Regions from separate parts of the Homo sapiens genome. Here region 2 is linked to region 1. The links come from fine-mapping of genetic effects on plasma protein levels. A gene starts in region 1. The other region holds a variant in brackets. All regions are shown on one strand. Distances are between the middles of the regions. Region 1 holds the start of PCOLCE (procollagen C-endopeptidase enhancer). Region 2 has its middle 3.5 kb from the start of AGFG2.

Evidence for each region. A credible set is the group of variants that fine-mapping cannot tell apart. PIP is the chance, under the fine-mapping model, that this variant and not a neighbour inherited with it causes the effect. Protein levels are from antibody-based Olink assays in UK Biobank. Linkage for the fine-mapping came from a reference panel and not from the study's own genotypes, which makes the PIPs less certain.
Region 2: its variant is the best candidate, but not a certain one, in a credible set for the plasma level of the PCOLCE protein (UK Biobank, PIP 0.60).

What each region holds. Positions count from the first base shown.
Region 1 is chr7:100,599,122-100,603,499 of GRCh38, reverse strand. PCOLCE (procollagen C-endopeptidase enhancer) reads right to left here and starts at 1,137. Exons shown (of 9, transcript NM_002593.4): 1 at 949-1,137; 2 at 1-70. The coding sequence starts at 1,043. FBXO24 (F-box protein 24) reads right to left here. Exons shown (of 10, transcript NM_033506.3): 9 at 3,299-3,469; 10 at 2,383-2,966. The coding sequence ends at 2,601. PCOLCE-AS1 (PCOLCE antisense RNA 1) reads left to right here. Exons shown (of 9, transcript NR_038910.1): 2 at 334-1,160; 3 at 1,817-1,880; 4 at 2,648-2,777; 5 at 3,311-3,460; 6 at 3,698-3,829. RefSeq lists an enhancer at 1-28.
Region 2 is chr7:100,533,499-100,537,876 of GRCh38, reverse strand. No RefSeq gene overlaps it. Among named protein-coding and RNA genes, the nearest start is that of AGFG2, 3.5 kb to the left of the region's middle. RefSeq lists a cis regulatory region at 4,200-4,378. The variant GACCAGTA/A (reference allele first, on the strand shown) is at 1,848.

The DNA.
Region 1 (4,378 bases):
GTTGGGGAACCCCTCACTTGCCACGTAACCTGATTCCCCCTTCACATCCCCTCCGCACAGGAACACGGGTCTGGAGAACAGAAAAGGGGTCAGGAAAGAGCAGGGACGGGTGGGACGGGGGAGCACTGGCAAGATGGGGATGAGGTGATGAGGATGAAACTCCAAGGAGGGAAGCTGGGGGATGAAATGGAAAGGCCTTGAGAGACCTGGGGCAGCTTCCACCAGCCAGGACAGGGCTGGGGTGTCCCAGACTCCCACAAAGATAAGGGAAAAGTGGGCCTGGCAACTCGACCATCCCTCCAACCCCAAGAGTCCCCACCCCCACCCCAACAGGAATTCCCGGAATCCTCCTCGGCCCCCCTTCCAGACTCCCGCCTCACTCTGCCTGGCAGTCCAGGGACAGGAGCCGCCTAACTACTTCCAGATGTGGACACAGCCACGAGGCGGTGGGGGGGAGGGGGTGGAGAGATGGAGGGAGCTGCAGTGGCGATGGCCCTCTGATTGAACCTGGAGGCCAGGCTCCGCGAGCTCCACACCTTAGCCCTGCCCCTGTTCCAAACTACTTCAGATTCTGACTCCCAAGTCTCCACTCACTGCCCCCTCCTCCCCCTACAATCCCTCTCGAATTCCTTCCTGGAATCCAGCTACCAGGCAAGTTCAGGAGCTTGGCTCTCTCTTGGGTTCTATGGGGGGTCAAGGATCTGGGTGGGTGGGGAGACTTAAGAGACCAGAGGACGAAGGTGGGGGAATGGGAGCAGTGGTGGCCTGCAGGAGACCAAGGTCTTGCAGCAGATGGGGAGGATTTGGGGGCCAGAGAAGGGTGAGGCGGTGGGGAATCTGGGGAGTGGTGTGTCAGCAAGGGAACCCAAAATATCTCCAGGCATAACCCCAAAGGAATCGGGGGTCTGAAGTTCACTGGAGCTGTCTGGAAGATGCCAAGAGACCTACCTGGTGTAGTTGGGGGTCTGGCCCTGGGCAAAAGGCAGCAGGGCGCAGGCAGTGAGGAGGGGCCCCAGGAGGGAGGCTGTGGCTGCAGGCAGCATGGCCCCGGGGGAAAGGCGCTGGGGTCCTCAAGACAGAGGCAGCAGCTGAATTTTGCAGAGCAGCAGCAGCGGTGGCGGCAGCAGCAGGATAATCAGCGCCAGATGGGGCAGCCTTGGGTGTGTGGGCGTGGGGACTGGCCAGTGGGGCGGGCAATGGGGAAGGCGGGACAGTGGCGTGTCCTGGGACCTCTCTAGGTCTAGGACACATAAATGTTGACCTTAGGAGGGGGAGGAGCAGTGAGGGGCAGAGGCCGTCTCCCAGGCCTCAAGTAACGTCATCGGGAACCCCACTCTGTCCAGTGAGGGAGTATCTCCGGGAACTTCTGAGGACTCCCTAGCCCCCATCCTCCCCCCGCCCCTGCTTCCTCAGCTCAGGAGCCCTCATTGCTCACCCCCTGCCTGACCACCCCTGCCAGCTCATTTTCCACTTCAATTTCTTTTTTTTTTTTTTTTTTTTTTTGAGACAGAGTCTCATTCTGTGACCCAGGCTGGAGTGCAGTGGCGCGATCTCTGCTCACTGCAACCTCCGCCTCCCGGGTTCAAGCAATTCTTGTGCCTTAGCCTCCCGAGTAGCTGGGACTGCAGGTGCATGCCTCCACACCTGGCTAATTTTTGTATTTTTAGTAGAGGCAGGGTTTCAGCATGCTGTCCAGGCTGGTCTCAAATTCCTAGCCTCAGGTGATCCGCCCACCTCGGACTCCCAAAGTGCTGGGATTATAGGCGTAGCCACCACACCTGGCCTCCACTTCACATCTCCATTGCCTTCTCTCCAGACCTGGGCCAGACTAGGCCAAGGAGAAGGAATTCTCACCCATGACCTCTTCCAACTACTTGAAGGTACAGGAAGCAAGGCAGGAGGCATGGGGTGTGGATGAAGGGAGTGTCCTTGTTACTCAGGAAGAGGTGGAAGGAGTAGAAAATAGAGCCCAAACCTGGGAGGTAAACAGAAGGGAGAGAGGAGGGGGGCTGGCTTCAGGCCGAAGGGAGATGGGTGGGAAGCTTTCGGGGGTCAGGAGGAACAGGCTGCCTCAGGATGGGGACAAGTCTAGTGGGCAGGGGATCCCAGTGGGGTAGCCAAGAGCATCTGTGCATAGAGTTGTTCCAGAAGGTAGGGCCAGAACTTCCCAGTCCAAACGACCAGGTGTGCTCTTGGGAGCAGGGAGTGGACAACAATGTGAAGGGTTCAGGCAGCATCAGCTCTGCTGCACCTGAGACCTGGAGCTGCTTGTGCTGCCTGCCCCTGCCTGGGCTCCTGCCCTCCTGCACCCACCAAGCCGGGCACCCACCCACCCCATCCCTGCCCCTGTCCCTCCCAGCCCCCAAGGCTTCCACACCAGGCCTCGCTGCAGCCTTTTATTCTATCCATCAAATCTCTTGTCCATGATAGTCAGGTTGGGGGCCCCTCCTGGGCAGCCCCCTGAACATTCTTACCCTGGTTAGCCGTCCCCACCCCCTAGCAACCCCTTCCCACACGCATGTGCACAATGGTCATTGCTCCTTAGTCCCTGGCCTGGGGCCGGACTCCCTCCTCCAGGGACTAGGCTAGCATGAGGGGGATTAGGTCTCAGGGGCTGGGGGCCCTACACCACCCCCGCCTCCTTCAGCCCTCTGCAGCATGTCCAGGGCCTCCCAGAAGAAGTCCTTCTGTGCGGCCATCAGGGGCATCCACCCTACGATCTCCTTCATCTTCTCCGTGCGGTCCTGCAACGTTTGGCAACTGTGGATCTGGCTGAGGTACTCCTCGCAGGCCTGGGCCATCCCCCCGGGGTCCTGGGGTGCTCTGGCCCCCAGGCTGGGCTCAGGAGTCCCCACCACCCTGCTGGCTGGCAGGTGGCGATAGGGGGCGTGCTGCTCAATGTCGTGGCTGGACAGGATGTATAGGCACTCCCTGGTGGCACAGAGGGCACAGGCACACAGAGGGACCTTGGAGGAGGAGAGAAAGGGGGCATGGCTGAGTGGTGCTTTCCTTGCAGGGTTTCCCAGGGTGCCCGGGCTAATCTGCCTATTGCATTCTTCCCTCTCACACCAGCCCTGAGCCGGCTAAGTCCCAGGGGTGTGTGAGGTTGGGCAAGGCCAGCACAGTCTGCTAAGGGAGAAAGCAGAGAGCGTGGTGTGCGGCAGAGGAGGGAGGTGGGGTGGTGCTAGGGAAATGGGACCCCCTGGGTCCCTGCAGGAGCCCCAGCTACAGCCTGTGGGCTTCCTGGTTCATGGCTCTCATCCTCCCTGGGTGCCCACTCTCCTGACCCCGCTCTGACCTTGACTTGGAGCTTGACGAAGGAGGCACTCCCCTTGGGCCAGCCTGGGAGGCGGCCCCCAGCCCCACAGCCGCAGCCCAGCAGCTCCTTGCTGAACTCTGAGCTCTGGCTCAGCACCAGGGAGTGGTTGAGGCCGCACCACAGGGTGATGGGCCGCTGCAGGTAACAAACCTGGGGACACACGGCCAGGGTCCCTGAGCAGGGAGCACCAAGGGACGGGGGGGCTGGGGTGGGAAAAGGTTGACTGGAAGGCTCGGGGCAGAATGAACTGGGGAGGAGGAAATGGGAGCCAGCACTGTCCCACGCCCCAGGTCTGCCCTGCTGACCCCTGCAGCCCCCATACTCTAACTGGTCACATAGGGTCTTGCACTTCTGTTGGTATCTCATCTATGCCCCCAGAAAATCAGCTCCTTGCCTGAGCCCAGGGCCTGCTGTGGTGTACCCCTCATTCTCAGCCCACCCGTCTATGCCAGTCCAGCCTCTCATCCTGCCTGCCAGCCTCGGGGAGACTTGCTTCTTGTGCAATTCCAGGTTAGACCCCAACACCACCCTGAGGAAGGACTTTCCCTTCCACTATCCCTCCCTTCCTGCTCTAGTATTATCTTTTCTTTCTTTCTTTCTTTTTTTTTTTTTTGTTTGAGACAGAGTCGGAAGGCTGGAGTGCAGCAGTGCGATCTCGGCTCACTGCAACCTCTGCCTTCCTGGGTTCAAGTGATTCTCCCACCTCAGCCTCCCAAGTAGCTAGGACTACAGGTCCTTGCCACCACACCCATCTAATTTTTGTATTTTTAGTAGAGAAGGGGTTTTGCCATGTTGACCAGGCTGGTCTCGAACTCCTGACCTCAGGTGATCTGCCTGCCTTGGCCTCCCAAAGTGCTGGGATTACAGGCATGAACCACTGAGCCCAGCCTCCACTCTAGCATTTTTATTTTCTCTTTTCTTTTTTTAGAGATGGGGTCTCATTCTGTTGCCCAGGCTGAAATGCAGTGGTGCAATCATAGCTCACTGCAGCCTTGACCTCCTGGGCTCAAGCCATTCTTCTGCCTCAGCCTCCTGAGTAGTTGGGAATACAGGCATGTG
Region 2 (4,378 bases), 66 kb after region 1:
TGTATTTTCAGTGGAGACGGGGTTTCACCGTGTTAGCAAGGATGGTCTCGATCTTCTGACCTCGTGATCCGCCGGTCTTGGCCTCCCAAAGTGCTGGGATTACAGGCGTGAGCCACCGCGCCCGGCCAATTTTTGTATTTTTAGTAGAGACAGGATTTCACCATGTTGGCCAGGCTGGTCTCAAACTCATGGCCTCAAGTGAGCCTCCCGCCTTGGCGTCCCAAAGTGCTGGGATTACAAGCATGAGCCACAATGCCTGGCCACCTGTTGGGTACTTCAGATTGGGTTGGTCACCATTTTTAAAACAATTACTTTTTTTTTGAGACAGGGTCTCGCTTTATCACCCAGGCTGGAGTGCAGTGACACAATCATGGCTCACTGCAGCCTCAACCTTCTGGACTCAAGTGATCCTTCCACCTCAGCCTTCCAAGTAGCTGGGAGTACAGCTGTGCACCACCATGCCTGGCGAATTTTTAAAAATTTTTTGTAGAGATTGGGTCTCACTATATTGCCCAGGCTGGTCTGGACCTCCTGGGCTCAAGTGATCCGCCCACCTCAGCCTCCATCTCCCAGGTTCAAGCGATTCTCCTGCCTCAGCCTCCCAAGTAGTTGGGATTACAGGTGCGTGCCACCATGTCCAGCTAATTTTTGTATTTTTAGTAGAGATGGGGTTTCACCATATTGGCCAGGCTGGTCTTGAAGTCCTGACTTCAAATGATCCACCCACCTTGGCCTCCCAAAGTGCTAGGATTACAGACGTGAGTCACCGCACCCGGCCTCTTTTTGTTTTGTTTTGTTTTTTTTGTTTTTTTTTTTTTTTTTGAGACAAGGTCTTGCTCTGCTGCCCAGGTTGGAGGGCAGTGGCACAATCATACCTCACTGCAGCCTCAACCTCCCCAGTTCAAGTGATCCTCCCACCTCAGTCTCCAGGGTAGCTGAGACTACAGGCGCACACCACCATGCCTGGCTAATTTTTGATTTTTTGTAGAGAAGGGGTCTCACTATGTTGTCCAGGCTGGTGGCTGGCAGCCTGCTTTCTCTCTCTCTCTCTTGTTTTTTTCTTTTTGAGACAGGGTCTTACTCTGTCACCCAGGCTGGAGTGCAGTGGCACAATCTTGGCTCACTGCAACCTCCACTTCCTGGGGCTTGAGTGCTCCTCCCACCTCAGCCTCCCGAGTAGCTGGGACTACAGGTGCATGCCACCATGCCCAGCTAATTTTTTGTATTTTTAGCATGTTGGCCAGGCTGGTCTCGAACACCTGAGTTCAGGTCATCTGCCCGCTTTGGCCTCTCAAAGTGCTGGGATTATAGGTGTGAGCCACCGCACCCGGCCCCATTTTTCAATTAATGGCACCATGAGCCACCTAGTTGCCCAAAGCAAAAATCTAGAGCTACTCTCTTCAATACGGCAGCCACTAATCATATGTGGCTATTTAAGTTTAAATTAAATTAAAATGGGCTGGGCGTGGTGGCTTATGCCTGTAATCCCAGCATTTTGGGAGGCCGAGGCAGGCGGATCACGAGGTCAGGAGTTCGAGAAAAGCCTGGCCAACATAGTGAAACCCTTTAATCTACTAAAAATACAAAAATTAGCCAGGCATGGTGGCAGGCACCTGTAATCCCAGCTACTTGGAAGGCTGAGTCAGGAGAATTGCTTGAACGTGGGAGGTGGAGGTTGCAGTGAGCTGAGATCGCGCCATTGCACTCCACCCTGGGTGACAGAGCGAGACTGTCTCAAAAAAAAAAAAAGAAAGAAAGAAAGAAGAAGGAAAGAAAAAGAAAAGGAAAGGAAAAGGGGAGACTAAAGGAGGAGTAGGTTAGGGCAGGGCCTAACCTACTGGGCCATG[GACCAGTA/A]CCTGTCTGTGGCCTGTTAGGAACCAGGCCACGCAGCAGGAAGTAAGTGGTGGGCAAATGAGCAAAGCTGCATCTGTATTTACAGCCACTACCCATTGCTCCCATTACCGCCTGAGCTCTGCCTCCTCTCAGATCCGCAACAGCATTAGATTCTCATAGGAGCACGAACCCTATTGTAAACTGCGCATGCAAGGGATCTAGGTCATGCACTCCTTATAAGAATCTAATGCTTGATGACCTGTCACTGTCTCCCATCACCCCCAGATGGGACCGTCTAGTTGCGAGAAAACAAGCTCAGGGCTCCCACTAATTCCACATGATGGTGAGTTGTATAATTATTTTGTTATACATTACAATGTAATAATAATAGAAATAAAGTGCACAGGCCAGGCGCGGTGGCTCACGCCTCTAATCCCAGCACTTTGGGAGCTGAGGTAGGCAGATCACGAGGTCAGGAAATCGAGACCATCCTGGCCAACATGGTGAAACCTCGTCTCTACTAAAAATACAAAACTTAGCTGGCCATGGTGGCACGTGCCTGTAATCCCAGCTACTTGGGAGGCTGAGGCAGGAGAATCGCTTGAACCCAGGAGGTGGAGGTTGCAGTGAGCCAAGATCGTGCCACTGCACTCCAGCCTGGTGACAGAGCGAGACTCCGTTTAAAAAAAAAAAAGTGCACAATAAACTTAATGTGCTCAGATCATCCCAAAATCATCCCCCAACTCCCACCCGCCGGTTAGTGGAAAAATTATCTTCCTGGTCCGTGGTGCCAAAACGGTTGGGGACTGCTGGGTTAGGGGGTGCTGATAGGCAGAAATCAGTAGCTTGGTTTTGGACATGTTGATTTGAGATCCTTGTGAGGCATCCAGTGGGCTGATAAGCAGGCAGGTGGATATGTATAGACTGGATTTCCAGGCCAGGCCAGAGCTGGAAATGTAGGTTTAGGAGTCATCGCTTAGAGCCATGGGACTGGTTGCTTAGGTACAGCATGTAGAGAGAGACTAGAAGCAGGCCCAGAAGTAAACCCTAGGCACCCAATGTGTACTTTGTTCCTTTTCTCCAGTTATCACAGCCACATGCATTTCAACATCCCTAAAAAAAGGCAACACCAGACCGGGTGCAGTGGCTCATGCCTGTAATCCCAGCACTTTGGGAGGCCGAGGGGGGTGGATCACCTGAGGTCAGGAATTTGAGACCAGCCTGGCTAACATGGTGAAACCCCGTTTCTACTAAAAAATACACAAAATTAGCTGGGCATGGTGGCGCATGCCTGTAATCCCAGCTACTCAGGAGGCTGAGGCAGAATCGCCTGAACCCAGAAGTTGGAGGTTGCAGTGAGCTGAGATCGCACCATTGCACTCCAGCTTGGGCAACAAGAGCAAAACTCCATCTCAAAAAAAAAAAAATACAAAAATCAGCTCGGTGTGATGGCGCATGCCCGTAATCCCAGCTACTCAGGAGGCTGAGGCACAAGAATTGCTTGAACCTGGAAGGCAGAGGTTGCAGTGAGCCAAGATTGCATAGCTCCAGCCCAGGTGACAGAGCGGGACTCTATCCCCCTCACCCCCCTCTTCAAAAAAAAAGAAGGCAATACCGTCACATCCAGATATGCAGATGGGGCATCTCAGCCTACTAAACATTCCTTCTGAATTGCAGAGTTCACAATTTCCAAGTGCTGCCCATGCCTCCTCTAGCTTCTCATTAGCCAAGGGTTATTTCTTTTTTCTTTTCTTTTCTTTTCTTTTTGAGATGGAGTCTCACTCTGTTGCCCAGGTTGGAGTGCGGTGGCACAATCTCGGCTCACTGCAACCTCCGCCTCCTGGGTTCAAGCGATTCTCCTGCCTCAGCCTCATGAGTAGCTGGGACCACAGGCGCATGCCACCATGCCCGGCTAATTTTTTGTACTTTTAGTTGAGACAAGGTTTCACCATGTTAGCTAGGATGGTCTCGATCTGCTGATCTCATGATCAGCCCACCTCGGCCTCCCAAAGTTCTGCTATACAGGCGTGAGCCACCGTGCTCAGCATTTTTTTTTTTTTTGAGATAGAGTTTCACTCTTGTTGCCTAGGTTGAGTACAATGGTGCGATCTCGACTCACTGCAGCCTCCGCCTCCCAGGTTCAAGAAATTCTCTTGCCTCAGCCTCCCTAGTAGCTGGGATTACAGGCGCCCACCACCACACCCGGCTAATTTTTTGTATTTTTAGTAGAGACGGGGTTTCACCATGTTGGCCAGGCTGGTCACGAACTCCTGGCCTCAGGTGATCCACCCGCCTCAGCCTCCCAAAGTGCTGGAATTACAGGCGTGAGCCACCGTGCCCAGCTGAGCCAAGGGTTATTTCTTATCATCTTGCAACTTTGAGCAAATTGGTAAATTTAACTACCACCAATAGTGAGTGAAAAAAATTAGAACGTTCATGTAGATAGTGATGGTTTTCTGCTGATTTTTGCCACTGGGTGTGGTGGTGTGAGGGCCGTTGAGGAGCTCACCCTCCTCCCATCTCTACTCCACCCAGGTCATACTGG